4 linked regions of the Homo sapiens genome follow. The protein of the gene in region 4 interacts with the protein of the main gene of each other region in a pairwise test. Each region holds a gene or a part of one and is shown on either strand. Other genes may lie near its edges. The genes, in order: PLPP6, SLC7A14, ITGAM and MMGT1.

Evidence for each region.
Region 1: the proteins of MMGT1 (region 4) and PLPP6 interact in binary tests that used the Homo sapiens proteins (3 or more experiments, as listed by UniProt).
Region 2: the proteins of MMGT1 (region 4) and SLC7A14 interact in binary tests that used the Homo sapiens proteins (3 or more experiments, as listed by UniProt).
Region 3: the proteins of MMGT1 (region 4) and ITGAM interact in binary tests that used the Homo sapiens proteins (3 or more experiments, as listed by UniProt).

What each region holds. Positions count from the first base shown.
Region 1 is NC_000009.12:4,657,688-4,665,565, forward strand, and holds PLPP6 (polyisoprenoid diphosphate/phosphate phosphohydrolase PLPP6), read left to right. Parts: upstream 1-4,606; 5' UTR 4,607-4,688; coding exon 4,689-5,576; 3' UTR 5,577-7,571; downstream 7,572-7,878. Other genes in the region: SPATA6L (spermatogenesis associated 6-like protein), read right to left, coding at 4,212-4,349. UniProt on the Homo sapiens protein: Magnesium-independent polyisoprenoid diphosphatase that catalyzes the sequential dephosphorylation of presqualene, farnesyl, geranyl and geranylgeranyl diphosphates.
Region 2 is NC_000003.12:170,575,757-170,583,363, reverse strand, and holds part of SLC7A14 (solute carrier family 7 member 14), read left to right. Parts: intron 1-7,607. UniProt on the Homo sapiens protein: Imports 4-aminobutanoate (GABA) into lysosomes. May act as a GABA sensor that regulates mTORC2-dependent INS signaling and gluconeogenesis. The transport mechanism and substrate selectivity remain to be elucidated.
Region 3 is NC_000016.10:31,255,704-31,263,435, forward strand, and holds the start of ITGAM (integrin alpha-M isoform 2 precursor), read left to right. Parts: upstream 1-4,271; 5' UTR 4,272-4,361; coding exon 4,362-4,389; intron 4,390-5,988; coding exon 5,989-6,094; intron 6,095-7,732.
Region 4 is NC_000023.11:135,970,797-135,978,500, reverse strand, and holds the start of MMGT1 (ER membrane protein complex subunit 5), read left to right. Parts: upstream 1-4,512; 5' UTR 4,513-4,825; coding exon 4,826-4,904; intron 4,905-7,390; coding exon 7,391-7,443; intron 7,444-7,704. UniProt on the Homo sapiens protein: Part of the endoplasmic reticulum membrane protein complex (EMC) that enables the energy-independent insertion into endoplasmic reticulum membranes of newly synthesized membrane proteins.

The sequences.
Region 1 (7,878 bases), on a different chromosome or scaffold from region 4:
TTGACATGAAAATAAGACAAAGAAAATATATTTAATTTGTTGGAGTGGAAAGACCCTAGTTAGAGATCAGCTGGCAGTTTCTGATAGGTAAAGTCTCTAGCTAAAGATTAGTTGGCAGTTTCTTATTGGTAAAATCTCTAGTTAGAGGTTCATTGGTGGCATCTGTTTGGTAAATGACTCTAGTTTTACTGTTTACATTGGGCTTCAGTTTGCTTACCTAGGAATTTAAAGCACTGGAGCCGCCCCAGCCTAATGACTTCCCCCACCCCCAATTTTTTTAACAGTACACACACAGAGTGAATGCCGTGTAAATATTGGAATTACACTGCCACAAGCCAAGGAACTATACCAGAAACTAGGAGAGAGGCCTGGAATAGGTCCTTCCCTAGTGCCTTTAAAAGGAATATGTCCCTGCTCACACTCTGATTTCAAGAATTGTAGCCTCCAGAACAGTGAGATGATATGTTTCTGTTGTTTAAGCCACTCTATTTGTGGTACTTTTGTATAGCAGCTCTAGGAAACTAATATATCCATATCTAAGGATTTTCTCAAGTATGATCTTGGGGAGTAAATAATCAACATGAACTGCTTAAACAATGACTTATATATTCTTATGAGTAACTTGTTGACCCAAATGCTTCAGAAAATTCCATTTTGAATTACACAGAAGATCCGAGGAAAAGAAAATTTTTTCACTACCTGCTGAAAGTAGTTGCAGCTAGAGAAGGAAACAGATACAAGGAAGCTAAAACCAACAGGAAGAAAGGAATATGAACCCAAACAACTCATGCAAGAGGACAATTAATTGACTGAATTTTATAAAATGAAAAAGTGGTTCCATGATTTGTTTGACTAGTAATCTCAAATGTACAGCTTTTCAACAGAGCCATAGTGGCATCTGAAATGTGACTCAGGCTCACTCTTCTCTTTGACAAATCAAGGAGGTTGGAGTTATCTAGTTGTGTGCTTCTACAGTTTTGTATCTTTGGGCTTCTTATAAAAATATTTTTAAAGACTTTTACAGGCCAGATGCAGTGGCTCATGCTGTAATCCCAGCACTTTGGAAGGCCAAGGCGGGCAGATCATTTGAGGCCAGGAGTTTGAGACCAGCCTGGCCAACATGGTGAAACCCTGTCTCTACTAAAACTACAAAAATTAGCCTGGTGTGGTGGCAGATCCCTGAACCTGGGAGGCAGAGGGTGCAGTGCCCCAAGGTCTTGCCACTGCACTCCAGCCTAGGTGACAGAGCAACACTCTGTCTCCAAAAAAAAAAAAAAAAAAGGCTTCTACAGAGCAAATTCAAAATTGATATAACTAATAAGAAAATTATTGGGATGGGGGAAAGACTGCACTTTTACCACCAACTTTTTACCATTTCTAACATCTAACTGGGAGAACTAAGTTCCTTTAGATTCTGAGTATATGTTCCAAGGTAATAGCCATTTATTTCTCTCCTCACTTATCCAGCCAGTTTGGTACATTCTTCATTTAAATTAATAGGTTGTGATTTATAAAAATGTTACATACAACCTTAGCCCTTCAGAAAATTGATCTTCATCTCCACTGTCAACCTCAGGTTGAAACAGATAGGTCACTTTCTGGGCATCACTTTCCAGACCTTTAAAAGTGACATGCTCAAGTCTCAGGATACAAAATCAATGTGCAAAAATCACAAGCATTCCTATACACCAATAACAGACAAACAGAGAGCGAAATCATGAGTGAACTCCTATTCACAATTGCTTCAAAGAGAATAAAATATCTAGGAATACAACTTACAAGGGATGTGAAGGACCTCTTCAAGGAGAACTACAAACCACTGATCAACAAAATAAAAAAGAGGACACAAACAAACGGAAGAAGATTCCATGCTCATGGATAGGAATAATCAATATCGTGAAAATGGCCATACTGCCCAGGGTAATTTATAGACTCAATGCCATCCCCATCAAGCTACCAATGACTTTCTTCACAGAATTGGAAAAAACTACTTTAAAGTTCATATGGAACCAAAAAAGAGCCCGCATTGCCAAGACAATCCTAAGCCAAAAGAACAAGGCTGGAAGCATCACGCTACCTGACTTCAAACTATACTACAAGGCTACAGTAACCAAAACAGCACAGTACTGGTACCAAAACAGAGATACAGACCAATGGAACAGAACAGAGGCCCTCAGAAATAATACCACACATCCACAACCATCTGATATTTGACAAACCTGACAAAAACAAGAAATGGGGAAAGGATTCCCTATTTAATAAATGGTGCTGGGAAAACTGGCTAACCATATGTAGAAAGCTGAAACTGGATCCTTTCCTTACACCTTATACAAAAATTAATTCAAGATGGATTAAAGACTTAAATGTTAGACCTAAAACCATAAAAACCCTAGAAGAAAACCTAAGCAATACCATTCAGGACATATGCATGGGCAAGGACTTCATGACTAAAACACCAAAAGCAATGGCAACAAAAGCCAAAATTGACAAATGGGATCTAATTAAACTAAAGAGCTTCTGCACAGCAAAAGAAACTACCATTAGAGTGAACAGGCAACCTACAGAAAGGGAGGAAATTTTTGCAATCTACTCATCTGACAAAAGGGTTAATATCCAGAATCTACAAAGAACTTAAACAAATTTACAAGAAAAAATCAAAAAACCCCATCAAAAAGTGGGTGAAGGACATGAACAGACACTTCTCAAAAGAAGACATTTACACAGCCAACAGACACATGAAAAAATACTCATCATCACTGGTCATCAGAGAAATACAAATCAAAACCACAATGAGATACCATCTCACACAGTTAGAATGGCGATCATTAAAAAGTCAGGAAACAACAGGTGCTGGAGAGAATGTGGAGAAACAGGAACACCTTTACACTGTTGGTGGGACAGTAAACTAGTTCAACCCATGTGGAAGACAGTGTGGTGATTCCTCAAGGATCTAGAACTAGAAATACCATTTGACCCAGCCATCCCATTACTGGGTATATACCCAAAGGATTATAAATCATGCTACTATAAAGACACATGCACACGTATGTTTATTGCAGCACTATTCACAATAGCAAAGACTTGGAACCAACCCAAATGTCCATCAGTGATAGACTGGATTAAGAAAATGTGGCACATATACACCGTGGAATACTATGCAGCCATAAAAAAGGATGAGTTCGTGTCCTTTGTAGGGACATGGATGAAGCTGGAAACCATCATTCTCAGCAAACTATCACAAGGACAGAAAACCAAACACCGCATGTTCTCACTGATAGGTGGGAATTGAACAATGACAACACTTGGACACAGGGTGGGGAACATCACACACAGGGGCCTGTCGTGGGGTGGGGGGAATGAGTTAATGGGTGCAGCACACCAACATGGCACATGTATACATATATAACAAACCAGCACGTTGTGCATATGTACCCTAGAACTTAAAGTATAATTTTTTTAAAAAAATGTGACATGCTCTACTCTGTAGCCTTCCTTCTCCCCAGATCTCCCTCAATGACATTGTTTGGGGCAAAATCATTAGACTTATTAAGGTTAAAATTGATTCCATCTCCAAATTCCAAAACAAAAATGTTAAGAGATTGTCAGTGATGACATAGTAATAACATCAATATTCTATGAATAGTTTAGTGTGAAGAAGGCTGGTAATGTTTTGACTATTTATATCACCATGTTATTCACCAGAATGGAATCTAGCCTTTATCACTGTAGCTAAATAATCTAGGTATGATCTGAGGAAACAGTAAATCTGAACAGCCTTTTTGTTACAGGATTTTAGTTACAGGATTTAACTAATTTCATTATTTTTTTTTCGCTATTTTTCTTGGTCTAACACAGTTTTTTCTAAGGTCCACAGTTTATTAATAATCCCTTTCGTAAATGTAATGCAATTACCTCTAACACCTCCAAAAACATTCAGAAATGCTCTCTTTGCTCCAGTTAAAAAAATGCCATGGGAGTTCCAAGAATAGGAAACATCAACCAGGGTATTTAGCACTAGATTGACAGAACTTGGCTCAGACCTGCATTACAAAAGCAAGTGTTCCGACTGCGGTTTTGCATTGTGCTGAAGTGCTTTCGGATAATTTTTTTAAAAATGAAATTTACCAAATAATGCTGTAAGAACTCTGTTCTTTATAAGAACTCTCAGGTTATCTTCAGACAACAAAAGCCAATGAGAAAGTCAAGATCACCTTTTCAAATCTCATGCTCTCCTGAATCATAATGGGGAACGCAGAGGGAAAGCTGTTGGTCTCCAGGTACTGATTCATGAGGTAGACCCCGAGGTACACATCTTGTTTGCCAGGCAGGAACACTCCTGGGCAAGAAATCTTAAAAAGAAAGAAAACAACAAACAAGGGAGAGAAAACAGACTTTGCTTTGTTTTGTTACACGGGGCTCTATTTCTCTTAAGCTCCTACAGACACTGACATTTTCCCCATCACCTCACTCCCTCACCTGTACCTCCCAACGCCAACATCCTCCCCTCTGCTCTCCTCACATTGGAAATTCCAACTCCCTCCCACGTCTCCACCAGGTGTCACAATCGCGCTCTCGCCGGCTCCTCTCCCCGCCCCTCCGGGATGGTAGTGCGGAAGCGGAAGAGGCTGCAGGGCCGGGAAGCCTCTGTTTGGTCCGGCCAGGTCCCGGGATCCGGGCCGCCAGCTGCGATGCCAAGTCCCCGGAGGAGCATGGAGGGACGGCCGCTGGGCGTCTCCGCTTCGAGCAGCAGCAGCAGCCCCGGCAGCCCAGCCCATGGCGGCGGTGGCGGCGGCAGCAGGTTTGAGTTCCAGTCCCTGCTCAGCAGCCGCGCCACGGCCGTGGACCCCACCTGCGCCCGGCTCCGTGCATCGGAGAGCCCAGTTCACCGCCGCGGCTCCTTCCCCCTGGCCGCGGCGGGCCCCTCGCAGTCGCCCGCGCCTCCGCTGCCCGAGGAGGACCGCATGGACTTGAACCCGTCCTTCCTGGGCATCGCCCTGCGCTCCCTGCTGGCCATCGACCTGTGGCTGTCCAAGAAGCTGGGGGTGTGCGCGGGAGAGAGCTCGTCGTGGGGCAGCGTGCGACCCCTTATGAAGCTGCTGGAGATCTCGGGACACGGCATCCCCTGGCTGCTGGGCACCCTCTACTGCCTGTGCAGGAGCGACAGCTGGGCCGGGCGCGAGGTGCTGATGAACCTGCTCTTCGCCCTGCTGTTGGACCTGCTGCTGGTGGCCTTGATCAAAGGGCTGGTCCGCAGGCGCCGCCCGGCCCACAACCAGATGGACATGTTTGTCACTCTCTCGGTGGACAAGTACTCCTTCCCCTCGGGCCATGCCACAAGGGCCGCCCTGATGTCGAGGTTCATCCTGAACCACCTGGTGCTGGCCATTCCACTGAGGGTGCTGGTGGTTCTGTGGGCCTTCGTCTTGGGCCTATCCAGGGTCATGCTGGGGCGGCACAATGTCACCGACGTAGCTTTTGGCTTTTTTCTGGGCTACATGCAGTACAGCATCGTGGACTATTGCTGGCTCTCACCCCATAATGCTCCGGTCCTCTTTTTACTGTGGAGTCAACGATGACACCATCTCATTGATTATGGCACCAGGAAGTCTGAAGGTTTCCACATTCGATGATGTCAACCTAAACCAGCAGCCATCCCGCTTGTCCCTCTTAGGCATTTCAGGCTTCCTTTGGGATTTCAGGTGTCCCATGATCTTGATGTGCTGCTAGGCTGGAGCACACACTGGCCATTACTGAACACAGCCATATTAGGGAAAGCAAAAAAACCCAAAAAATCCTCTATTGTATATTTATTCAACAACTGTTTATGTTTCCAGGACAACTGCAAAGAAAACAAGCTGAGGTGGTTATACTGTTGCTGTTAAAAGTTGGTATCAGTAAGATTTGTGTTTTGTGATAATCCCTAAATCAACATACCACTTGTAAACTGAACTTCGAGAAAGAAACATGATGTTCATTCTGTAAATATACATGCAGACAGGTCATGTACTAATCCTAGTCCTTTTCCTGAGGTAGATTTTAAACAGTATTTTTAAAGTCCAAGACATAGGTTTTTCTAGTTTATTCCCTGAAGATCTGTTGCCACAGTTGGGAGATTTCTTCTTAATCCTGATTTTCTTGGTAAGCTTTTTTACTTTATTATCTCTATAATTTATTATCTCTATCCATATTTGTGGATCGGGTAGTGGGAAAAGAGATTATAATACTTGTCTTTCTCTCCTCTCCCTCCATCCCTCAAAAGATCTTTATGCATTTCCCACTACTCCCTTACTGTCTTTTAGCATTCAGAGAAAAAGCCAACTTGCTTAAAGAGGAATCACTTAAAAGGTAGGCATATCTAAGATGCTCATAGAAGAGGAAGAATGGGACATGGCCCCATGCTTATTTTTGTTTACAACGTAACATGGCATGAGAGAGGGCAGAGAAACTAAGTTGCTGGGGAAAGTTAGAGGAACTGAAAGTTTGGGAATAGGCTGACCACATATTATGCCAGTGACCAGTATGACAGGAGATGGGGCCCTGCTGCCAGTCATCTCCACTGAATAAAGAATAATGCTCCTCTTTCAGGGTAATAAAGTGGGGAAAAGGAACGTCTTCTCAATGCAAGAACATAAGCTTTCTCGTATATACCTGTATGCTACAGTTTTTCACATGGAATTCCGTTTTCTGAGGTACAGCACATTTTAGGTAACAGTATTTAACTTGAAATTCATCATGGGAGTCTGCTGCTATACCAGGCACAAGATAAAACTCCAAAATTTCTGTTTACATTGACCTTTACATTTAAAGCTGTTCATCCATGGTGCCTCCCCAAATCATAAGACCAAAGACCACCAAACGCAGGGTGGACTCTGCTCATTATTCTTTGACCCAGAAAGACTGGAGAAGGTATGTGCTTTAAGTGCTGCTCTACCTGAAAAGAAATCCTTTAAATTACCTATGGAAGTGATGTCCTCAGATAATCTTAATGACTATTTTGGCATTTATAAATAGAAATGATTATGGACTTTGATCTGCCATACGGAGGTTCGGAACCTGGAGAACGGCTGTGATAAGTAGGTTTTGATTGAGTGAAAGCATGAGCTTGTTCAGAGTGAGGGGCATAGTGAAAAAGGAACAGCCATGCCTCAAAATCAAATCATTTGCATTCCCACAGCATCCTGAATACCGACTACCTCTTCACTTGCTAAAGCAGCTAAACTGTGAAGCTCTAAGTGGTTTGGGTTTGTTGTTTAACCTTAGCGAGATCCTTTAACTGCAGCAATATTCAAGCCAGATATTTGGAAGCAAATGATATTTCCTCTTGCAGTGTCCACAAATCTGAATATTAGGGGCATGAAATTAGGCTTACCATCTGATTTGTAATTACAATTTTGGAATTCTCTGTTTTAGTTGCTGAGGCCTGAGTTTTCTGGCTCTTAAAGCATAGATCATTTCACCTGATGTTTTTGAAGCATCCTAAGTACAGTAGAGTAGAAAACTGATTTCTTTGTTAATTGTACACTGAATAATGCCTTTTAAAAATCAAAATAAAATTAACAAATAATGGTGAATGAAGTGAGATGAAAACTTGCTTAATTTTTGCCTTGATGAGGAGGGAGACAGATTTATCACTTAGCTTCTCAAGAGTTCCTTCTTCCTGCACAATTTTTAGAGCTTAAAACTGGTATAGCACTACTAATAAGGTCTAGCCCTATTTGCTGTCAGCAAAGTGGGACAAATCCAGGAAATGTTGATCACCTTTCACACCCACATGTATGATGAAACCACACCATTTGCCAATTGTATGGAAGACAACCAGATTCCATGACAATTTCCTGTTAGCACTGTGCTTGTAATCATAGCCAGTAGAAAAGCCCC
Region 2 (7,607 bases), on a different chromosome or scaffold from region 4:
CAACTCCTTTGTCTTCCAGCTCTTTCCCCTCTGGTCCTACTATTCCAGTGTTGTCTAACCCAACATACCTGGGAGATATGACCCACCTTCCTCAGTAACAGTTTTCTCTGAAGCAGCAATTCACAAATGGGAATGGTAGTGTGTCATTTCTTTACTTGCCCTATCTTGTCTATATCTCCTCTTCTATGACCTATTCCCCAAAAAATAATTTTCCCAAAATTGGTTACCCTAAGCAACTGCCCATGTTCTCATAGGGACTGGGAAAAGGCCCTAATAAGACCTAAGGATTTTTATAAATAAAGATCATTATAAGTGCTAATATCTATGAAATGCTTATCATATGTGAGGCACTATGTGAAGTTATTTCATCAATCATTTTACTGAATTATCACAATTCTGTCAAGTAGGTGGCTCCACTAAAGATGGTCCTAGGATTCTAGTTCGCTCTAACATACAGCAGAACCTGATGTTCTGTTCATTTCCTCTTTCTTCTCTTTCCAGCTCATAGTAAAGTCTCATCTTCATCAATTGGATTTTTGTATTTAATTGATAGTTCCATCCTGCTCCAAAACATAGCATTTAGAAATTCAAATTCAGTTCAAATGACACTGTTTTGCTCTCTCATCTCTTAATATTTACCAAACATATTCTCCCCATTTGTTATCTCTTATTTAAAAATTCCCATATGGCTTCTTATTGATAATGTCAACATTCTGCTTCAAACCTTCTCTAGAGCCAATTAAGGTATAATTTGTAATTAAATACATAACTTCTATTGTACCTTCACTAGGTGATCTGTCAAGAATGCTATTGCTGAGGTGCTCTGGGCCCTGTGAACCAGAACCTTAAACTGTCTAGAACTGCTCTGTCCAACATGGTAGTTGCTAGCCACATGTAACTATTTATAATTAAATTTTAATTAAACTTTTTAAAATTAAAAATTTAGCCCCCCAGTCACACTAGTCATATTTCAAGTGCTCAATAACTCTATATGGCTAATGACAACTGTGTTGGACAGGGCAGATATCAGAAAATTTTTATCATTTAAGAAAGTTGTGTTGAAAAATGCTGCTTTAGACAGTACTAAACACACCCTCACAGCAACCAAGAACTAGGAACTGGGAAGAAGTAAGGACCTACTCTTCTTTGAATCTTCTGCCAAGAAAGAAAGAAAAAGCCACTTATGCCTAATACATCACCAGTAGCCCAAAGATACCTAGGACAATTAGGCTATGAAGGAGTGTGCATGTCTTACTTAAGGAGCTGGTAGCCTCTGGAGTTTGCTTCATATGAATTCTATGTTACTATAAAGTAAAATATTCCATGAATGAGGTTTGCTGGTTTCATGAATTTTGACTTAGATACAATCTGAAAGTTCCAATTCAAAATCCAAGTTTATAGATTACATGTATATGTAATAACATGTGTGTGTGTTTATCTTGTCTTAGTAATCATAGTATGATAGACATGGAAAGAATATAAGACTTGGAGTCAGTAGTACAGGTGTCACATACTACTTGGTGACATTATGAGGCCCTCTAGAGCTCCATTTCTCCATCTCTAAGATGTTGATGAGAATTGCCATAACTATCTCAAAGGACTATTGTAAAACTCAAAGTGTAGGTATACGAAAGTACTTTGTAAGGAGCATGATTGAATCTGCAATGGTTTATTATTTTATATAGATATGGTACAATGTACAAATAGGGTAGTTCAGGCTGAATGCATTTCTGAATGATTTTAATCTGATATGACTGTATTTTTGCCTTTGTGGTCATTTATTTCACTGAAAAGTGGAACGGTGAAGAAAAAATTTAGTTATTGAAATTTCTGATTGGTTAGATTCTATTAATTGAAATACCGTGCATTGTTTGTTGTTTAGTTTATTTGGTCCTGAACATTTTCTTCTCAGGATTAAAAAAAATAATAACTAGGAAATCTAAGTTGTTTGGAACAGCTTTTACCTTTTAACTAATAGTTTTTAAGTAATCATCAATAATGAACCCATCATGGTAATAGGGGTTCAGAAATAACAAAATACAAGCATTATGGATATTCCTCAGTGTGAGGGGGTGAGAGGGATAATTTTCAAAACATATTTTTACTAATTACAAATTGAAATGAGCTTCTATCCATTCTCATAGATCAATCAGAACAAGAATAATTCTATTTCATGCATTGATTAAACCAAAACAAAAGTGAAGGTCATTAACTTGACTGAATTATTGAGTTTGCATTAGGGATTCTAACCTTAAATAACAAGTCTTTATTCATTCTCTAAGTTGAAATCTGTTGGGGTCATTAGGAGAACCTTATGCATCTGGCTAACATTTACTCCCAAACCTGGCATCTATGACCTACTCCCGCACTTTGATCTGTGTATGCTATTTATGCGTCAAGTAAAACTGCTTTTCAGATGCAGCCATACCTTCTATAGTGGCTCACGATTTTGATACTTAAATATTTTTCTCTTATAACACAAAGATTAACACAGTGCTCAGATATTGTAGAAAATAAGCCTGGAAACAAAGCTATTCCATCAGATGTTTCTTCACTGTATTTATTAGGTTTTATCATCTTGAAAACTCAACGAAGTCACTTTATTTATTCATTCATTCATTAACAAAGCACCTGAGAATCAAGCTGAGTATGACCAAGGGCATGAGGTTTTATCTCCAGTTCCAGAGATCTAGTTTACCTTTGTTTAGAGTTAACAAAGGTATAGATGCTACCTTGTAAGATGCTCTGCCAGGTAAATAGTTGAGATATACACTTAGCCACTGTTTCTGGTCAAGCCTGCTGTCCTCAAGCCTTTGTTGCATATGGGACTATATTACTGAAGGAAAAATAAGCGAAGCTGTTAACTCTGGCCTCTAGTAGATGATGCTAGCTTTAACAATAAACATATGTTGTTGGGCGTCATGATTTATTCACTTCATTGGACTTGTTTACCTCTTGGAAAGACCTGGATTTTGGAAAGGGGAAAATGCCATTACCTTGGAGCTGAAAAGAGTTCTTCTCTGTCTGTAGCTTAAAGGATTTCTCTAATTGTAGATCCCAAGAGATAAAGAGAACTGACAATGTAGCTTTGAAACAAATCCTAATAGCATACAATCATCCATTTAATCAATAACATAGTTGAAGAATGTCCTATTTTGACACAAAAATGTTGTGGTTAAGGATGTTTGGAACACATGGATGATCAATAAATATTTGGTGAATTCAGACCATTGTTCCAGGTTAATTCATGCCATACACTCGTCTATCTCTACCAAGAATTCAGTATTCCCTATGGCATTTTCCTTTAGCAAATAAAACAGGAGGCAAACACAGTATATCAAATCTTACCCTAATAACCACACTTCTAGCCCTTCTCGGGGCATAAATAGTGATGGCCAAGATAGACTACTCCTGAGAACCGTGTCTTGCTGCTTCACCCAGAAAACAAAGCACAAATCAGCCCAAGGGCCTTGCATTTCACTGTGATGAGGCAACTTCAGAAACTCAAAGCTTAAATGGAGTTGTGTGTTCTTTTCCACTCTTATCTTGAAGAGATACCTGTCATTTCCTTCAGAAAGTATTTGGCTGGCCTTCATGATAGCAGCAGGCAATTGCTATTGTTCCTAAATTCAGAAGAAGCTTAGCTTAGAATGAAAGCACATATATTAATTAGAGGAGAACTAGCGACATTGCAGTCTGATGGTTTACAGAATATTATCCTTTTCCAGGAATAATAAGGCTTCCCTTTAACGGTTTTAACTGGTGATTACTGACAAAAATGAAAGAAAAACAGCTCATTCTATTCTAGCAAGTCAATAAGGAAACGCCTAGAATTAACTGATTCTTATTTGCCAAAGGCAAAATATTCCAACCCAATGAACAACAAATGATCAAGCTGGTTCTCATTTTCTCTTCATTTTAAAAAAATTTTTCCATGTTTTTGAAAAATAATCAGTAAATAAGAAACAATTGCACCCAGGTGTTTAAACATTCTGTTGACAAAATGGTCTTCAGAAATGGAAAGGCTTAATTGTTTGTTAGAGATTATACAACATATTATTATGTCAATATTTTATAACAATCACATAACTGAACTCTCTCACTTTAGAGAGAAATTGATGCTGGGAACACTCACCTGAGTTGATGTCAGAGGAATATGACTTGAGTCTTCTCTCTCTCAGGCAATTATAGAACCCACTCTGCATTTTTTAACATCATGCATCATTTCATTAGTCATGAAAACTTGTTTAGTCTATGAGTTTATCAAAGATTCAGGTTTATCTTTTCTCAAAGATTCAGGGAGTAGGAAAGAGTATGTGTTTGGATTTCAGATTATTTCCCTTTGTACCTCCAGGTGAAAGAACTACTGGTCAAGGATGGTCAGCAGGTAGAAATTTCAGGGGTGGAACTATAAGCCATAGAAAAAGATTCAAAACCTCAGCATCATCCATGTTGCAAGAACTTAGGCAAGGATTTAACTCTTCTTACTTTTTAATCTTCATCCCTAAAAGAAGTTATTTAGATTAAATAGTGTACAATATCCTGCAAGCCATAACATTCTATGGTTCGATGAAATAGGGCCAAGAGCTTGAATAATCCATTATTTGCCTCCTTAAGACCGAAGAATTAAACATAAATCAAGATTCTTATTTTTACATCATTATTTATCAGAAGTTCTGAATTTCATGCTAGTACCTTACCTGGAAACAATAATGATAATGATAGCTAATACTTATATACAATTACTATGACTTTATAAGGTTGGTAATGCTATCATCGCCATTTTACAGATGAGAAACCTGGATACTAAAGTAGTTAAATTACCTGCCCAATTTGACACAGGTAACAAGTTTGTGCTACCATGCTACACCGCCTCTATAAAAACCACAAATCTGACAGATAGATAGCTGATGTGTGCCATTTATAGCCACTTGACACACCAGCCAATTCTCTGGAGAATTTCTATTTTAGCTCAATTTTTTACTAGAAGAGCAACCAAGATGGTGAATAGAACTTCAGTCCTGTGTGTGGGAATCTACATTGTCTTTCTGTAAGATGGCTCTTGTGCTTTTGCAATTGATGTCATTGACCAATTGTTTACGTGATTCAGCATTGAATGTTGGTGCTGTGCAGGTGGCTGCATGTGGTGAGGACCACTCTTCTGCCTCTTCCCAGAATGTGTGGCCAGCCACACCACCAGAAATAGATGGATGCTGGTGCAGGATCAATCCAGCACCTTCTAATGCTATAAAGGTCAGCCCACCACATCTTTACTGTTCAGTAGAGTCTTCTAGCTTCTGCCTTTAGGTTTTTGACTCAGTGTAACAATCTAGACAGCTTTTACAGTAGAGAGGGAGAGCTCCCAGAGTGTCATTTCCTGGAGGTAGGCTTGGGTCAAGGCTAAGACTAAAACTTTCAAAATCATGTTGTGAAAATCGTTTTCTTCTCATTAATCCTATGTTAACAAATTAGTCATAAATACAATACACCACAGTACCCATCTGTTTCACTGTGTATTTCAATGTACTGAATATACAAATGGGCATTTAGCTCTTAATATGGTATATCTAACCAGCTGAGAATGCTCTGACAGTAGTCAAATATACATGTTTATTCTTTAGCTCTAGTTTCTGGCTTGTTAAACTAGCTACATATCCCATCAACACCAAGGCCAATTACGGAATACATAACTCTACTTCTTCCTCTGTGGTTTTCTTTTTTTTTTTTTTTTTTTTTTTTGAGACGGAGTCTCGCTCTGTCGCCCAGGCCGGACTGCGGACTGCAGTGGCGCAATCTCGGCTCACTGCAAGCTCTGCTTCCCGGGTTCACGCCATTCTCCTGCCTCAGCCTCCCGAGTAGCTGGGACTACAGGCGCCCGCCACCGCGCCCGGCTAAGTTTTTGTATTTTTAGTAGAGACGGGGTTTCACCTTGTTAGCCAGGATGGTCTCGATCTCCTGACCTCATGATCCACCCGCCTCGGCCTCCCAAAGTGCTGGGATTACAGGCGTGAGCCACCGCGCCCGGCCTCCTCTGTGGTTTTCTAGATACTCTGTGGGGAGCGGGATGGCCTAGGAGTCAGAAGATCTGCTTTCCAGACTCAGCTTTGAAATGTACTACCTGTGACACTTGGGCCAGCACCATTCACTACTTCAAGACTGAACTTCCTTACCTTTAAAATAGGGGTAATAGATCTTGCCCCTCACATTACAAATAGGGCCAGTGAGATGGCATTAATTAAAGCTCCTTGTTAACCATAGAGTTAGTCCAGAGGAAAGAGATGGGTTTTCCATCCTTTCAGTCTTTCCCAGCCAGAAATTACTCTCAAGCTGTTGATACCCAATTCTGAACCAGGGTTGACAGCTAAATCAATGTCTTCAAGGTTAAGAAGAGCTTGGATTTAAATTTGTAAATCTAGAAAATGGCACTTACAATAGGAGAGGCCTCCTGGTTTCTTCCAAATTAATGGTCCTCAACCTGAGGCAATGTCACCTCAATAAGGGGTATTTTATATTGTCACAGATACTGGAGGAGAGGGGAGTTACTACTGACTTTTGGTGGACTGGGATCTAGAATGTTAAATATCCTGCATTAGACAGAAAAATCCTGCAGAATAAAAAATGTCCTGTCCAAAATGCCAATAGCACTCCACCCCCACTGAAAAATACCGCTCTAAGTAATGTGCTGTTCCTGGTCCCTAATTCTCCAATTGATGCAGACAGAGAGCGTTTACTTTTCATCTCCACCCACAGGTGAAATCCAGCCATGCTCATGTGAGGTCTGTAGTAGTTATTGTTCAGAAGTATGACCAGACTTCCAGTAAGTTTACCAATAAGTAAAACAATGGGGTCAGAGATCAGTGGTTTTAAAATTAGCCCCCAGAAGCTCCTACAAAAAGCCTCCTCCAACCTCTGCAGGGGCAAAGATTCCCAGCAGGTTAATATGCCTATAATGTGAGAGCTGGCCTAAAGGTTGGCATTTAGGGATGCAAAATCAGTAAATCATGATTCTAAAATGACTATCTTTGCAATTTATTGAAGAAACATTGTAATATTCACTTGTTTTATGACAAGCATGGGCCTAGCTAGGCACTGGATATGAGACATAATCCCTGCCTCAAGTCACCAGTAATCTGAAAGTTCCACAGATGTAATCCCCACTAATTATGTATGCAACATGACACATGCTATAACATATTATGAGGGAGCCTCCAAGGAGAGACCAGGAAACAATTCACTTCCACAGAGGAAATTATAATTGAACAGTATCTTGAATGGTATATAATATTTTTTCAGGTGGATAAATGAGAGAGAAAGCTATTGTAGAAATGGGACCAGCATAAGCAAATGCTGAAGGTGTGAACAGAAATGATACAAGTGCAGGCTGACCTTATCTGGCTGGTGGGAGGTCATACTGGAAGGACTGAAGAAACTTGAATACAGATAGGTGGATGTATTTATTCAGCCAGGGGCTTATCCTTTGAACAGGGATTTTATGAGTATCTTAGGAATATCATTTGAATTCAGGGCTCATGGAGTCCAATCTTGTAACTAGAAGAAATCTCAGAAATCACCCTACCATGCTCTTTTCCCTATGTATTACAGTTGAA
Region 3 (7,732 bases), on a different chromosome or scaffold from region 4:
ACTTGAAGCCTTGTCTCAGAGTCCACTTATAGGGGAAATCAAGCTAAGATTTTATCAAGAGTGGGGATGGGGGACAGGTAGGAGGGAACAGCCAACAGCTTATAGATATGTCCCCACCCACGGTCACCAGGTCAGGTGCACACTTGGTGGTGGCTCATTGAGAAAGCCTCTGCAGGTTGGACAGCCAGTCTGAGATCTTGCCTATGTTTTTACAGAGAGTGGACCCTTGGCCACTGTTCAGGGCAAGGAGGGGCCTCCACGTCTGAGTTCGAGCAGCCCCCATAGTGGCCAGAGTGTGAAAACTTTTCCCAAAGCAAACCCAGCTGATCTACTAAACTCCTCCCCGGGCACCCTGGTTGGTATCTTCTCATCTTGGGCTCATGACTTCGTTCGTCCTTTCCTCAGCTTCTTTACCTGCTAACAAATACAGGTAACCTGTTGTTTTAAATTATCTATTGGTATTTTTTATGATTATGAGTCTTTTTTTTGTATAAAGGTCTTTTTTTTTTTTCTCTTTGAGACATGGTCTTGCTCTGTTGCCCAGGCTGGAGTGCAGTGTTGAGGTCATAGCTCACTGTAGCCTCAAACTCCTGGGCTCAAGTGATCCTCTTGCCTTGGCCTCCCACAGCATTGGGATCACAGGCATGAGCCACTGCACCCAGCCTATATAAATATTTTAAGTACAAATGATATAGAAAAGAATATTAAAGTCATCTTGTAGCAGATTGAATACAACCACAAATTCCTCCCATTGGGAGGTGGGATCTGTGTCCCCTTTGCTTGAATGTGGATGAGCTCTGTGACTGCCTGATCAATGGAATGTGGTGCAGATGACTTGGCGCCAGTTTCCAGATCAAGACCTTAGTAGCCTGGAAATTTCTGCTTCCTGTCTGTTGGAACACTTGCTCTTGAAGTCCAGCCACCATGCTGCGAGAAGCCCAAGCCACATGGAGAGGGCACGTGGGGGTGCCCAGGTGACAGCCCCAACTGAGCTCCTAGCCCACGGCCAACTGCCAGCTGTGGGAGTGACCCATTTTGGGAGCCCAGCCCAACTGAGCTTTGGATTACTCTAGCCCTGGTTGTGATCCGACTGCAATCATGTGAGAGACCCCGCTGAGAACTGCTGAGGCCAGGAGATTCACAGATACGCGAGAGATTATAATATGCTGCTGTTTTTAACTATGAAGTTTTGGAGTAGCTCGCTCTGCAGCAATAGATACTGGAACATACCTGTAATCCTCCTATCTTGGAGATAACGACTATTAACATTTGGTTTTCCTGCATATATATATATATATATATATATATATATATATATATATATATATGATTTATTTTTGTATGTATGTACTTATTTATTTAATTTTAATTTTTTATTTTTTGAAACTGAGTCAAGCTCTATTGCCCAGGCTGGAGTGCAATGGTGCAATCTCAGCTCACTGCAACCTCCACCTCCCAGGTTCAAGTGATTCTCCTGCCTCAGCCTCCCAAGTAACTAGGATTACAGGTGCCTGCCACCACGCCTGGCTAATTGTTGTATTTTTAGTAGAGATGGGGTTTCACCATGTTGGCCAGGCTGGTCTTGAACTCCTAATCTCAGGTGATCCTCCCACCTCAGCCTCCCGAAGTGCTGGGATTACAGGCGTGCCTGTATATATTACATGCCCTGCCTATATATATTTTAGAGACAGGGTCTGGCTCTGTTTTCCAGGCTGGAGTGCAGTGGTGCAATCATATCTCACTGCAGCCTCAACCTCCTTGGCTCAAGCGATCCTCCCACCTCAGCCTGTTGAGTAGCTGGGACCACAGGTGTGCATCACTATGCCCAGCTAATTTTTAAACATTTTTTTGTAGAGTCAGGGTCTTGCTGTGTTGCCCAGGCTGGTCTTGAGTTCCTGAGCTCAAATGATCCCTCTGCCTTGGCCTCCCAATGTGCTGAGATTACAAGCAGGAGTCACCACACCTGGCTATATATAAAAATTATAAACAGATAATTTTTAACCAAATGTACATAATTTTAATTGCTTTTTTTTTTTTCAGCCAGCAAGCATTTTTTTCCATCTAGTTATCGGGAAAGTAGAACTAGAGGCAAAAGAAAATGTGTTGAATGGTGAAACCCTGTCTCTACTGAAAATACAAAAAATTAGCCAGGCGTGGTGGCAAGCACCTGTATTCTCAGCTACTCGGGAGGCTGAGGCAGGAGAATCACTTGAACTCGGGAGGCAGAGGTTGCAGTGAGCTGAGATCACGCCACTGCACTCCAGCCTGGGCGACAGAGGGAGACTCCGTTTCACAAAAAAAAAAAAAAAAAAAAAAAGAAAATGTGTTGAGAAAGAGTGAAAAAAATCATTGGCTTGAGAATCACATTGGCGGTCACATAAAGGTGAGGTTTGTGTTCCATGTATGTGTGGAAGGATACCTATTTTCCTGTGCCTTTGAAAACAGAATTAAAAGTGACAGACACAGGGGAGGGTAAGGATATATCACAGAGTGAAGTATCATTGAACCATTCCTCTGTTGAATATTCAGGTTTTTTTAGCTTTTCATATTAACAATAATGCTGCAATGAACAAGCTTGCAAATATATATATATATATATATTTTTTTTTTTTTAGAGATAAGAGTCTTGCTCTGTCGCCTAGGCTGGAGTGCAGTGGCACAATCTCTGCTCACTGCAACCTCCGCCTCCAGGGTTCAAGTGATTCTGCTGCCTCAGCCTCCCAGGTGGGATTACAGGTGCCTGCCACCACGCCTGGCTAATTTTTTTGTCTTTTTAGTAAAGATGAGGTTTCACCATGTTGGGCAGGCTGGTTTCAATTGCTGACCTCAAGTGAGCCACCCCGCCTCAGCCTCCCAAAATGCTAGGATTACAGGCATGAGCCACCGCACCCAGCCAAGTTTGTACATATATTTTTGACTACACTTCTTAACTATTCTTAGGATAAATTACTAGAAGTGAAAATTCTTGGGTGAAGAGCTTGAGGCCTTTACACACACACACACACACACACACAAAAATAGGCTGGATGCAGTGGCTCACACCTGTAATCTCAGCAGTTTGGGAGGCTGAGGAAGGAGGATCACTTGAGTCCAGGAGGTTGAGAATAGCCTGAACAACATAGCAAGATCTTGTCTCTACAAAAAATTTAAAAAAAATTAGCTGGCCATGGCAGCATGTGCCTGTAGTACCAGCTACTCGGAAGGCTGAGGTAGGAGGATCGCTTGAGCCCAGGAGGTTGATTGAAGCTGCAGTGAGCTGTGATTACACCACTGCACTCCAGCCTGGGCAACAGAGCTAGACTCTGTCTCTAAAAAAAGCACAAAATAATATTTAAAAAGCACCAGGTATGCCTGTACTTGAGTTGTCTTTGTTGATGGCTACAAATGAGGACAGCTCTGGCTGAAGGGCGCTTCCATTTCCATGGGCTGAAGGAGGGACATTTTGCAAAGTGTGTTTTCAGGAAGACACAGAGTTTTACCTCCTACACTTGTTTGATCTGTATTAATGTTTGCTTATTTATTTATTTAATTTTTTTTTTGAGACAGAGTCTCACTCTGTCACCTGGGCTGGAGTGCAGTGGCATTATTGAGGCTCATTGCAGTCTCAGACTCCTGAGCTCAAACAATCCTCCTGCCTCAGCCTCTGGAGTAGCTAGGACTACAGGCATGTGCCACCATGCCTGGCTAATTTTTTAAATGTATTTTTTTGTAGAGTCGGGGTCTCCCTATGTTGCCCAGGCTGGAGTGCAGTGGTGTGATCCTAGCTCACTGCAGCCTGGACCTCGGGCTCAAGTAATTCTCACACCTCAGCCTGTCCAGTAGCAGGGGCTACAGGCGCGCACCACCATGCCCAGCTAATTAAAAATATTTTTTTGTAGAGACAGGGTCTCTCTATGTTGCCCAGGCTGGTTTCAAACTCCCAGGCTCAAGCAATCCTCCTGCCTTGGCCTCCCAAAGTGCTGGCATTACAGGCGTGAGCCACTGCGCCTGGCCCGTATTAATGTTTAGAACACGAATTCCAGGAGGCAGGCTAAGTCTGTTCAGCTTGTTCATATGCTTGGGCCAACCCAAGAAACAAGTGGGTGACAAATGGCACCTTTTGGATAGTGGTATTGACTTTGAAAGTTTGGGTCAGGAAGCTGGGGAGGAAGGGTGGGCAGGCTGTGGGCAGTCCTGGGCGGAAGACCAGGCAGGGCTATGTGCTCACTGAGCCTCCGCCCTCTTCCTTTGAATCTCTGATAGACTTCTGCCTCCTACTTCTCCTTTTCTGCCCTTCTTTGCTTTGGTGGCTTCCTTGTGGTTCCTCAGTGGTGCCTGCAACCCCTGGTTCACCTCCTTCCAGGTTCTGGCTCCTTCCAGCCATGGCTCTCAGAGTCCTTCTGTTAACAGGTGCATGGGGGTGGGGTGGGGGACTCTGGGTGGGGAGGAGGGTAACTTTTGGGTCTGTCATAAATAGAGGGCCCAGAATATGTAGGAGTCAGTCTGGGGAGAGGCAAAGGGGATTTGGGGAAGGAGAAAGGGTTCAAGAAGAAGCAGGGAGAACAGCTAGACCCAGACAGGCTGGCCAGGGAAGCCTGGATGAATGACCACATTCATGGACTGTGCAAGGCTGCTTGCCGGTCCCCTTGCTTCACACATGAGGAGACGGAGGCCCAGGGAGGAGAAGTGACATGGCTCAGGGTGCGCAGCAGGTGTGAGACCCCTTTCCTGAGTGCTTCCTCCTGGATCCCCTCTCACCATCTCCACTTTGCCTCCGGTTCTATTTTCCAAGGTCCCGGGTGCAAATGTTTGTTGAATGACTGATGAATGAAAATGATTTGAGTTTGTTACCTTTTATGCTTATATGTTGTGGAAAATGAAATTCTCCTCAAAAGGGAAGGAAATACTTGAGAGCTGCATAGGAAGGAAATTATCTAATTAAGAATGTATAGAAACTTCACTGTTGGGCAAATCATCGTTGTGACACCGGGGGAAGAAGCCATTTAGGTGCTCAGAAGGGAGGCTGGAATTCAGAGCAGGACTGGACGTGCCCCACGACGGTGGTTCTTAGGTCAGGAGTCAGCAAACAGTGGCCTGGGGGCCCGATATGGCCCACGACCTGTTTTTGCACAACCTGCCAGCTAGAGATTGAAGATGAACACTGATAATCGATTTGATGATAGGGAGCACCACCCCCAAAGAATTCTATTTGTCTCATTTGTAAACCCGTATTACAAACAAATTGTACTCAATCATTATGTTTGAAATTTCCCTAATGACAAATTTGTGGAAAAGTATTTTCTGTCTTGTTATATAAGTACTTGTACAACATATTCTATCAGCCTCTTGGTCTGCAAAACCTAAAATTTACTATCTGGCTGTTTACAGAATAAGTGTGCTAATCCCCGCCCCAGGCTAACAGAGCTGGACCTGGGAGGCAGACATCTGGATGCTGGGTTAGTTAGGGTGACCGAATGGATGGGAAAGGGAATGGAGCAGGAAGACATGCTGCTATCTTTTTTTTTTTTTTTTTTTTTTGATACAGGGTCTTTCTCTGTTGCCCAGGCTGTAGTGCAGTGGCATGATCATGGTTCACTGCAGCCTTGACCTCCTGGGTTCAAGCAATCCTCCCACCTCAGCCTCCTGAGTACCACTACACCCGGCTAATTTTTTATTTTTTGTAGAGATGGGGTCTCACTGTGTTGCCTAGGCTGGTCTTAAACTCCTGAGCCCAGGTGATCCTCCCACGTCAGCCTCTTAAATTATTGGGATAACAGGCCTGAGCCACCACACCCAGCCATTGCTTTCTTTTAAATTATTATTAGTTTTTGTTTTTTTTTTGTATTTAATTTTGAGATAGGATCTCTCTCTGTTGCTCAGGCTGGAGTGCAGTGGCACAATCAGGGCTCAAGTGATCCTCCTGCCTCAGCCCTCCAAAGTGCTAGGACTACAGCCCCTAACTGGCATGCTACTTTCCTCTGCTTGATCCTTCCCCCATTCTCCCTTTAGCCTTGACCTTATGTCATGGGTTCAACTTGGACACTGAAAACGCAATGACCTTCCAAGAGAACGCAAGGGGCTTCGGGCAGAGCGTGGTCCAGCTTCAGGGATCCAGGTGAGACCCTTAGATGGAGCCCCCTTTCTCAGTGCTTTCTCTCCAAGACTTACATACCTGAAAAAAATCAGCGATTTGAGTGATCTTTTTCAACAGATAAATCAATTCAAAATATACAACAAATTCATCTTTTGAATTTACAGTATTCTAAATTCAAAAGATGCAAAAGGGTGTAAGAGTAAAAATCTCTTCCTTACTCCCTTCCCCTAGTTCCCTTCCCAGGAGGGACCTCACAAATGGTTTCCTGGGTGTTCCTTCGGGGAGACTCTGTGTGTGCATAACACATACACGTTCCCTCCCTCAGCCAACACACCATGTGTAGTATACATTGTACTGAAATTAAGGCCTGCCTGCAGGCTGCCGCCTATTTTTGTGAATGAATTTTATTGAAAACAACTCCGTCCACTTGTCTCTTACTGTTTATTGCCCTTCCCTCCCTTCCTCCCTTCCTTCCTTCCTTCCTTCTTTCCTTCCTTCCTTCCTCCCTCTCTCATTCCCTGCTTCCCTCTTTCCCTCCTTCCCTCCCTTCCCTCCCTTCCATCCTTCCTTCCTTCCTTCCTTCCTTCCTTCCTTCCTTCCTTCCTTCCTTCCTTCCTTCCTTCCTTCATTTCTTTCTTTCCTTTCTGACATGGTCTTGTTCTGTCATTCAGCCTGGAGTGCACAGGTGAAATCATAGCTCACTGTAGACTCAAACTCCTGGGCTCAAGCAATCCTCCCACCTTAGCCTCCTGAGTAGCTGGGACTACAGGCATGTGCCACCACACCTGGCTAATTTTTTGATTTTTTTTGTATAGACGAGGTCTCACTCTGTTGCCCAATCTGGTCTCAAACTCCTGGCCTCAAGTCATCCTCTTGCTTGGGCCTCCCAACTTGCTGGGATGATAGGTGTAAACCACTGTGCCTGGCTATGGCCACTTTTGAGCTGTAATGGCAGAATTCAGGAGCTGTGATAGAGATTGTATGGACCCTGAAGCCTAAAACATTTACCTTTACAGAAACAGTAATTGTGGAGGTGATAGTACCTTTCCAGAAGAAGGGGGCTGGTCTCTGCTCTTTGCTTTATCTCCCATAATACAGCCCAGTGATTTGAGTCCATTAATCCCATGTTATGCTTGCATTGCATGCCATAATTGGGAGATGCTATAATTTATTTTATTTTATTTTTTTAGAGACTCCCTCTGTCGCCCAGGCTGGAGTGCAGTGGCATGATCTTGGCTCACTGCGACTTCTGCCTCCTGGGTTCAATCGATTCTCCTGCCTCAGCCTCCTGAGTAGCTTGGATTGCAGGTGCCTGCCACCACGCCTGGCTAATTTTTGTATTTTTGTAGAGACAGGGTTTCACCATGTTGGCCAGGTTGGTCTTGAACTCCTGAGCTCAGGTGATCCACCTGCCTCGGCCTCCCAAAGTGCTGGGATTACAGGCTTGAGCCACCGTGCCTGGCTTGTAATCTCCTTTTACATTACATTAGATCTCTTGTTAATGAACATTTAGATTGTTCCCAAACTTTTGCTCTATGAACAATGCTGTCATTTTGCACATGTGCAAGCCTATTTGGAAGTAAAGGCTAGGACTGGGATTGTGGTATCCACGGGTGCATGAGCACGTGCAATTTTAATAGATTTTTCCAGATCCCCCTC
Region 4 (7,704 bases):
TTTGTGTTTTTAGTAGAGATGGGGTTTCACCATGTTGGCTAGGCTGGTCTTGAACTCCTGACCTCAAGTGATCTGCCCGCCTCAGCCTCTCAAAGTGCTGGGATTACAAGCGTGAGCCACCGTGCCCAGCTAGGAAGGCTATTTGAAATGAATAATCATATTAACCTCACACAAGTAACCTAGGATACTTTGTGCACATGTGGTAATGAAACCCTAAGAGAGATATTAGTAGATCTGGAAATGGTCCAGAGAAGAGCAATTAAAATAGTCAAAAGAGAGAAGCAATTGATGTTTTAGGAAAGACTAAAAAGGTAAGGAACCTCTTTAGCTTACAAAAATAGCTAGAAGGGTCAATAGCAACAACAACAATGGCTGACATTTACTTAGTGTTTACTATGTGTAAGACTATTCTAATCACTTTATATGTATGATCTCACTCAATGCTGATAACAACCTAGGCAGGTAAACACTATTATTATCCTCATTTCACAGATGAGAAAACTGAGGCGCAGTGAAGTTAAGTAACTTCTCCAATCTCTCAGAGGTAGAAAAGGAAAAGCAAGGATTCAAACCCAAAACTATTCCAGAGCATATGCTTTTAACCACTGTAGTGTAGATCATCCAGCAAGTAAACAAATCTTAAAGATATGAATCATGTAACCACAGTACTGTTTACTCAGATTCAAAACTTAAAATACCAAGGTACCACTTAATGCTTCAAGACAAATACTTTTTTTTATTGTTTGAATTTCTTACAATGAGCTCATACCACTTTGGTAATGAAAAAAAAAAAGTAAACAGGATGCGATTTCAATATTGAAAGTACTAGTTTACTCGGCAGGTAGTAAACTTCTAGAATGTGTTACCCAGAGAGGTTGTACGAAATATAAATAGCTCAAAGAAAGGTTTTGTGCCTACAATAGGTATATATCTCATAAATATCTATAATAGTCAGGAGCATATTCCTAAGGAAAGTGGAATTTTGAACCAGGTGGGAAAGAACAGTGTGCCAGATCGAGGGAGAATCTGCATGGAAAATGGAGACGTGGATAAGCAGTGTGTGAAGATACTCGTGGAGCTGGGTGGCATGTAATAAGTCAATTAGCTTGAAGATGAGTCTGGGATAGCAGTGCTTTCTCTATTCAGTGAACTAGCCTGGGAAACGTGATAAGTCTTCACAAATAACATCTCAGTAGGAAACGCTTTAGAGACCATTATCCCCATCTTTAATAACATCCACATCATTTATCCAAGGTGCATATGGAAAATGGCTCTTTCTTTGGAAAAACAAACAGCACTTCTGGGGTCACTTAGGAATTTAAATGCACTTTCTCATGAGGTTTGACTTTTGTTCTAAGAGCTCATGAAAACAGTGCTACCACTAGCTGTACCTTGCACCTTTGGGATTAACTGCAACTTAAAGAACCATGTATGAGTGAACCCAAGGTACTTATTTGAATGATACAGTCCTTGGTAACTGTGACTATGAATACCTTGGCTTCCCTTCAGGTTGGAATCTACAGAAAAGACAATTAAAATCTCACTCCCTGAACATAATTTAACCATGTATTACTAGAAAATGTGAAACGAGGCTAGTTTCTCTTGCATTCAGTATATGGGTAAAGAGGTAAAAAAAGAGTGAGAAATGCATCTTAAGAGGGCAATAGAGAAAACAAAACTCAATATCTGGACATGGGTGATCTCCCTGAAGACTAGGATAATGCATTGGTGGTTTATACAAATACCAGATTCATTATTGAATTTCTTTTTTCCTATAACTTCATCTTTTTAAAGGAAAAGAACCAGATCTCAGGTCCTATAAGAAAACTCCTAATCATTTTCTGCTTCAGATAAATTGATATTAAAAGGGTTTTTTTCTTTTTTCTTTTTTTTTTTTGGAAATGGAGTTTCACTCTTGTTGCCCAGGCTGGAGTGCAATGGCGTGATCTCGGCTCACTGCAACCTCCGCCTCCTGGGTTCAAGCGATTCTCCTGCCTCAGCCTCCTGAGTAGCTGGAATTACAGGGGCCCACCACCACGCCCGGCAAATTTTTTGTATTTTTAGTAGAGATGGGGTTTCACCATGTTGGCCAGGCTGGTCTGGAAGAAGGGGTAATTTTACAGGGGATCTGAAAAGGCTAATTTCAATCTGACCATTATTTTAGACAAAACAAAGTTGTAAGATTTTTTTGGTCAACTATCTTTTCTACCTTATTACCTCCCAGGGGCGGAGAAGGAAGCACTTTCCTGTCAACTACAGAGAGATTATCTCCTGGTTCTTCCTGATTGTATAAATAGAACTACATTTGTAAGGAATGCATTATACTGCACTTGACATCCATCAAGTATTGTGTAAAATTCTGGCTTAGAGGTGAAGAAATTGGAAAGGGCCCAGAAAAGAATAATGAACATGACTAAAGGTTTGGAAAATGAGATCCAGGACAAAAATTATATAAGTAAAGTTGAGGAAATATGATTAATTTTAGATGTCTTCTTCTACTTTTTTTTTTTTTTTTTTTTGGTTAGAGAAAGGGTCTCGCTCTGTCACTCAGCCTGTAGTGCAGTGGCATAATCATGGCTCACTGTAGCCTTGAACTCCTGGGATCAAGCAATCCTCCTTCTTTAGCTTCCCAAGTAGCTAGGACTACAAGCATGTGCTACTATGCCCAGCTAATGAGATGTCTTATTTGTTTTTCCAGCTTTGAGGAAGCTCAAGCATATCAGAAAATGTTTACAATCAAAAGGTTGTCAAAATGTGAGAGTACATGCAAGTCCATGGGGATTTTTGAGCCCAATTCAAAAGATTGGAAGGACTCTCTGTAGAGATCCTTTCAAATAGGGATACTGTCCCAATTATTTTCCGGAATTCATTTGTCATTCAACAAGCACTTATTGAATGCTTATCACATGACAGTCAAAGTTTTAGGTACAGAGAAATCTCTGTTCTCTCAGAGCTTACATTCCAGTGGGGAAAGACAGACAGTAAACAGTAACACAACAAACATAAATAGTTAAATTATATAGTATGTTAGAAGGTGATATAAAAAGTAGAACAGAATAAGGGGATCAGGAATAGGAATTTTGCACATTTAAAAGGGGTGGTCAGGATAGGACGCATCTTTGAGCAAAAGCAAATTGATGCAACTAAAACGTAGAATTCTGATTGGGTTAAAGGAAAAGAATGGTGATCATACTTTGCATTTACCTTGTGATATGCAGTTTACAAAGCTTTGCCACTCAGTCAGGGGTCACTGGAGGAACTGGTGCAGAATTTGGAAAAAAAGGATGAATTCCATTTTAGCCATATTACGTTTTAAGTGCCACAGGAAATAAATGCCTATCTGGTAGTCAGAAATGCAGCCCTGGAGCTAAGGAGAGATATTTGTGATAGAGATGTCGATTTGGAATCACTGTAATACCTTTGCTGGCTGAAGCGGTGGGAATGAATGGGTGAGCTCCCCAGGGGACAGCAGAGTGATGAGGTCAAGGGGAGAAGCTCACTATTAAATGTCTACATTTCAGGAGATGAAGACAAAGAAAAATGGGCAGAGGAGTATACATTTTACCCGGATCAGAGATAGAGACAAGGCAAGAAGGCTGCGTTATTAGCATTTTAAAATTTCCTCTTTCATTTCTTCCTTAATGTAAGCTGGTTCTTTTCACGACAAAACACTCCCCCCGCGCTACACCTCTTTTTGCGCGAATCTTTCTCCAGGACCTTAAAATGGTTTACTGAGCACTTCCCGCGAGCCAAGTATTTGGGGTTCCAGATCCTGGGATTTTGTCCTGACACTGCCTCCTCGTTTTAACACCCTTGCCTCCTTCTGCAGTGCCAGTTTCCAGGGAGCTGAAGCACAGGAAAGGCCTACAGAAAACAAAAGGCACAGTTTCACAAAAAGCCAAAACCAACCAACCCACAAAACACAACTGTCAGGGGTCTATATCCAGCACCTACCGCCTTTCCCCAACGCCCCCAGCCCCGCCCCTCGGCCCCACCTCCTCCCGCCCCTCGGCCCCACCTCCTCCCCGCCCCCTCGGTCCCACTCCTCCGCGCCCCCTCGGTCCCACCTCCTCCCCGCCCCTCGGTCCCACCTCCTCCCCGCCCCCTCGGCCCTCACCCACTCTCCGTCCCCTCCGCCCCGCCCCCTACGCCCCACCCATCCTCCCGTAGGCCCCGCCCTCGGCCCCACCTCCTCCCCGCCCCTCGGCCCCACCTCCTCCCCGCCCCTCGGCCCCACCTCCTCCCCGCCCCTCGGCCCCACCCATCCTCCCCGCAGGCCCCGCCACTCGACCGCACCCACCAGGGCCCCCCCCCCCCGGCTACGCCCACCCACCCACCCACTGGCCCCGCCCCTCGGCTACACCCACCCTCGTGCGGGCCCCGCGCGTCTTCCCCACCCCGCCCGTCTGCCTACCCCGCCCCTCGCCCCCACACGTTCTCTACGCAGGCCCCCGTCCCTCTGCCCCACCCTGTTCTCGCCACTGGCCCTGCCCCCATTTGCCGGCGCCCTTCCTCTTCGCTTCCCCGTAGCTCCCGCTTTCGCCTCTTCGTTTATGACTCCGTTGGGCTCCGGCCCTCCTAGAGAGGCCTCCATAGCGCAGGTTCGTGGGTTCTCGCGGACCTTTTTCCGTGTAGCTTTCTGCTTCTTCCCGGCATTCCTGTTTCCGTTTTCTCACAGCCCTCTGGCTTTTCCACCACTGAGACACTTTGCGCTCAGGACTTCAGTGACGTCATCTTTCTGCGGCGCGCGGACACCCGCCGGTGGAAGAAGAAACAGCTCCGCCGTCCTTCGCTTCTTTTGCTGGGCTGCTGCTCCTTCGGCATCATGGCGCCGTCGCTGTGGAAGGGGCTGGTGGGCATCGGTCTCTTTGCCCTAGCCCACGCCGCCTTTTCCGCTGCGCAGCGTAAGTGCCTGGGGCACGGGGACCGCTTCGGTGTGGAACCCTAGGGGCGGTGTGTGGGCGCACTTCTAAGGGACCATCGGACCGAGTGTCAGATTAATGGTCCTTTGAGACCTTACAGTTTGGGGTGACTAAGAAAATCAGTGCAGGAGTTCCCAGTGGAAGGTTCGGAGTTTGAATTTGGAGAGAGTGTGGCACCTGAAATTGCAGGAAGGTTGGAAGGAGGTGTCTGGGAGAGGGTTCAGAATAGGAGTCTCCAGGAATCCAGGACAAGTGATGTCAGATCCAGCATGGGGCAGATCAGGCACAGTTGTGAGATTGAGGACTCTGGTTGCTCATGGTCCCACGACAACCAAGTGGACAACATCTTGGGCACTCTTGGGCTGTCCAGGCAGAGACTGAGTAGTTAAGTGACCGATTGCCTCAGGGAGGCACTGTGGTACAGGAGAAAGAGCACTGGACTGGGAGTCTAAAGGACTGGTTGTTAAAAACTTGCATTACCGCTACATCTGTGTGACGTTGGGCAAAAGATTTGTGCTACACTGCGTTATGAAATTCAGTTTTGGGTCGCTGTTTGAAATTGCGCTGTGTTTAGGTGCTAGAGATACAGTGATGCCCTGAGCCAGTTCAAAGTCTAAAGGAAAACAAGTGGATCAAGAAGTAGTTACAATAAAGTGATATGCTAAAAGTATATAAGGATGCATGGAAGCAGGGACAGTCATATTTTGGGGGAACTGGGAGGTTAAGGAAAGTATCCTAGATCCTTGCTGCTTACAGTGTGATCAACAGACCAGCATCATGAGCACCACCTGGCAGGTAATTAGAAGATACTCAGGCCAGACCTGTTCAATCAGAATCTGGGTTTTAATAAGATCCCAGGGTGATTTGTATGCGCATTAGTTTGAGAAACACTGTCCTGGAAGAGATTAGGATACACTGGAGTACTGTGTCATTTTCTACAGTAAGCTTTAACTGTAGAATTATATGATTGTGGGGCGAGAAGGGCCTTTGGAGTTCACTGAAGTCCAACCCCTTCATTTTACAGATGAGGAAATTCCTGGTTAAAGGTAGTGTTAGAAGCAGGCGAGGCTTCATGCAAACTAGCAAGCTAGCTAGGAATTGAACCAGATAGGAGATTAGTCAAAATCGATTTTTGGTGTTGGTTTGATGTTTCTTTTACACTTGTCTTTATGACAGAGCTGTAGGTTAAAACTTAAGAAATGTCTCTAAACACATTCTTCTTCAAGAGTCAATACACATGCACTCAAAAACAGTTTGAATTATTTAGTCCAAAGTACGTTATTAAATAGGGATTGTCCTAGGTTCATCTAGAATTAAGATTTTTGTATTTTATGTTTTGGGTGATGAGAATGCCTTGTGGATTTGCCACTGCAGTGAGACCTCTTTATATATAATGCTCATGTTAGGGAGAGAGTAATATGTAACTTTAAGACTAAGTGTGTCATGTCAGACTGTAGCAGCAGATAGCACAATGTGGTGCTGTGGCATGCTCATCTTTGCTGTAATGAACTTTGTTACAGTAGGGCACCAGTCATTTACTGTATCTTGTTTAATCCTCACCTCACATTATTCTCATTTTACTGTTGTGGAAATTCAGGTAATGAAAAAAATAGATACTGTATTTCTTTGATTCTAAGACACCCACCATTTTAACACTCTGAACTTGAGATATGTATTATGATCACTGCGGGCTTCTTTAATTAAATGAAATTATAGTAAATTGAAGAGCTGGCACTGATTTAGGCTTACCAGTTTCCAAATCCTGATCCTTTTCTTTTATCCCTTGCTGCCTCCTGAGGTTAAGGCAGCAGCAGCGGAATTATAATTAACTAGTAGAGGCAGAAATTGATTTCATGGAATTCCTATTCCACCACTGCCCCAGCGTATCCTCTCAGGAGAACCATTTCCATACCAGTATTATTTTGTCCATACTGTGTGGTTGGTGGTGGTGCTATTTCAGAGTTGAGATTTTCTGTAGACTTTACTTTTTAAATAATTGTGATTTCTTTGGCGAGTTAGTGAAAGTAACGGTTTTGAGAAGTTTCTAGTATTTCTATAATAATGAAAGAAAAATTATACTAAGGTATTTCTGCCTCATACTTGCTCACTTGTCACTCTTACCCATTTTATAAGGTGACAAAGCAGGTCATGATGAAAATAAAATAGTTGACTAAGATAGAGCTGACTACCTTAGAAGATAGAAGGTTTTGAGGAATCCAGGATTAGCATTACTTTATGTAGCATATAAGTCAGCCACTTCTTTTTTTATTTTTTATTTTATTTTATTATTATTATACTTTAAGTTTTAGGGTACATGTGCACAATGTGCAGGTTAGTTACATATGTATACATGTGCCATGCTGGTGTGCTGCACATAAGTCAGCCACTTCTTTGGTATATTGATTTGCTTCATTTTAAGAAAGAAAAATGAACTACAGTTTCCTTAATGGTATGCTTCTGGTTTATAGATCGTTCTTATATGCGATTAACAGAAAAAGAAGATGAATCACTGCCAATAGATGTAAGTTGGTCATTTATATTCCGTTACATGTATGTTTAAAATCAGCCACATAGCTTGTAATAATTTTTTTTTTACTGGTTTTTCGTAAAATTTTTCAGACATGAAATAAAATCTGATCTCCACTTTTCTTTTCTTTTCTTTTCTCTTTTGAGACGGAGTCTCACTCTGTCACCCAGGCTGGAGTGCAGTGGCCTGATCTCAGCTCACTGCAAGCTCCGCCTCCCAGGTTCACACCATTCTCCTGCCACAGCCTCCCGAGTA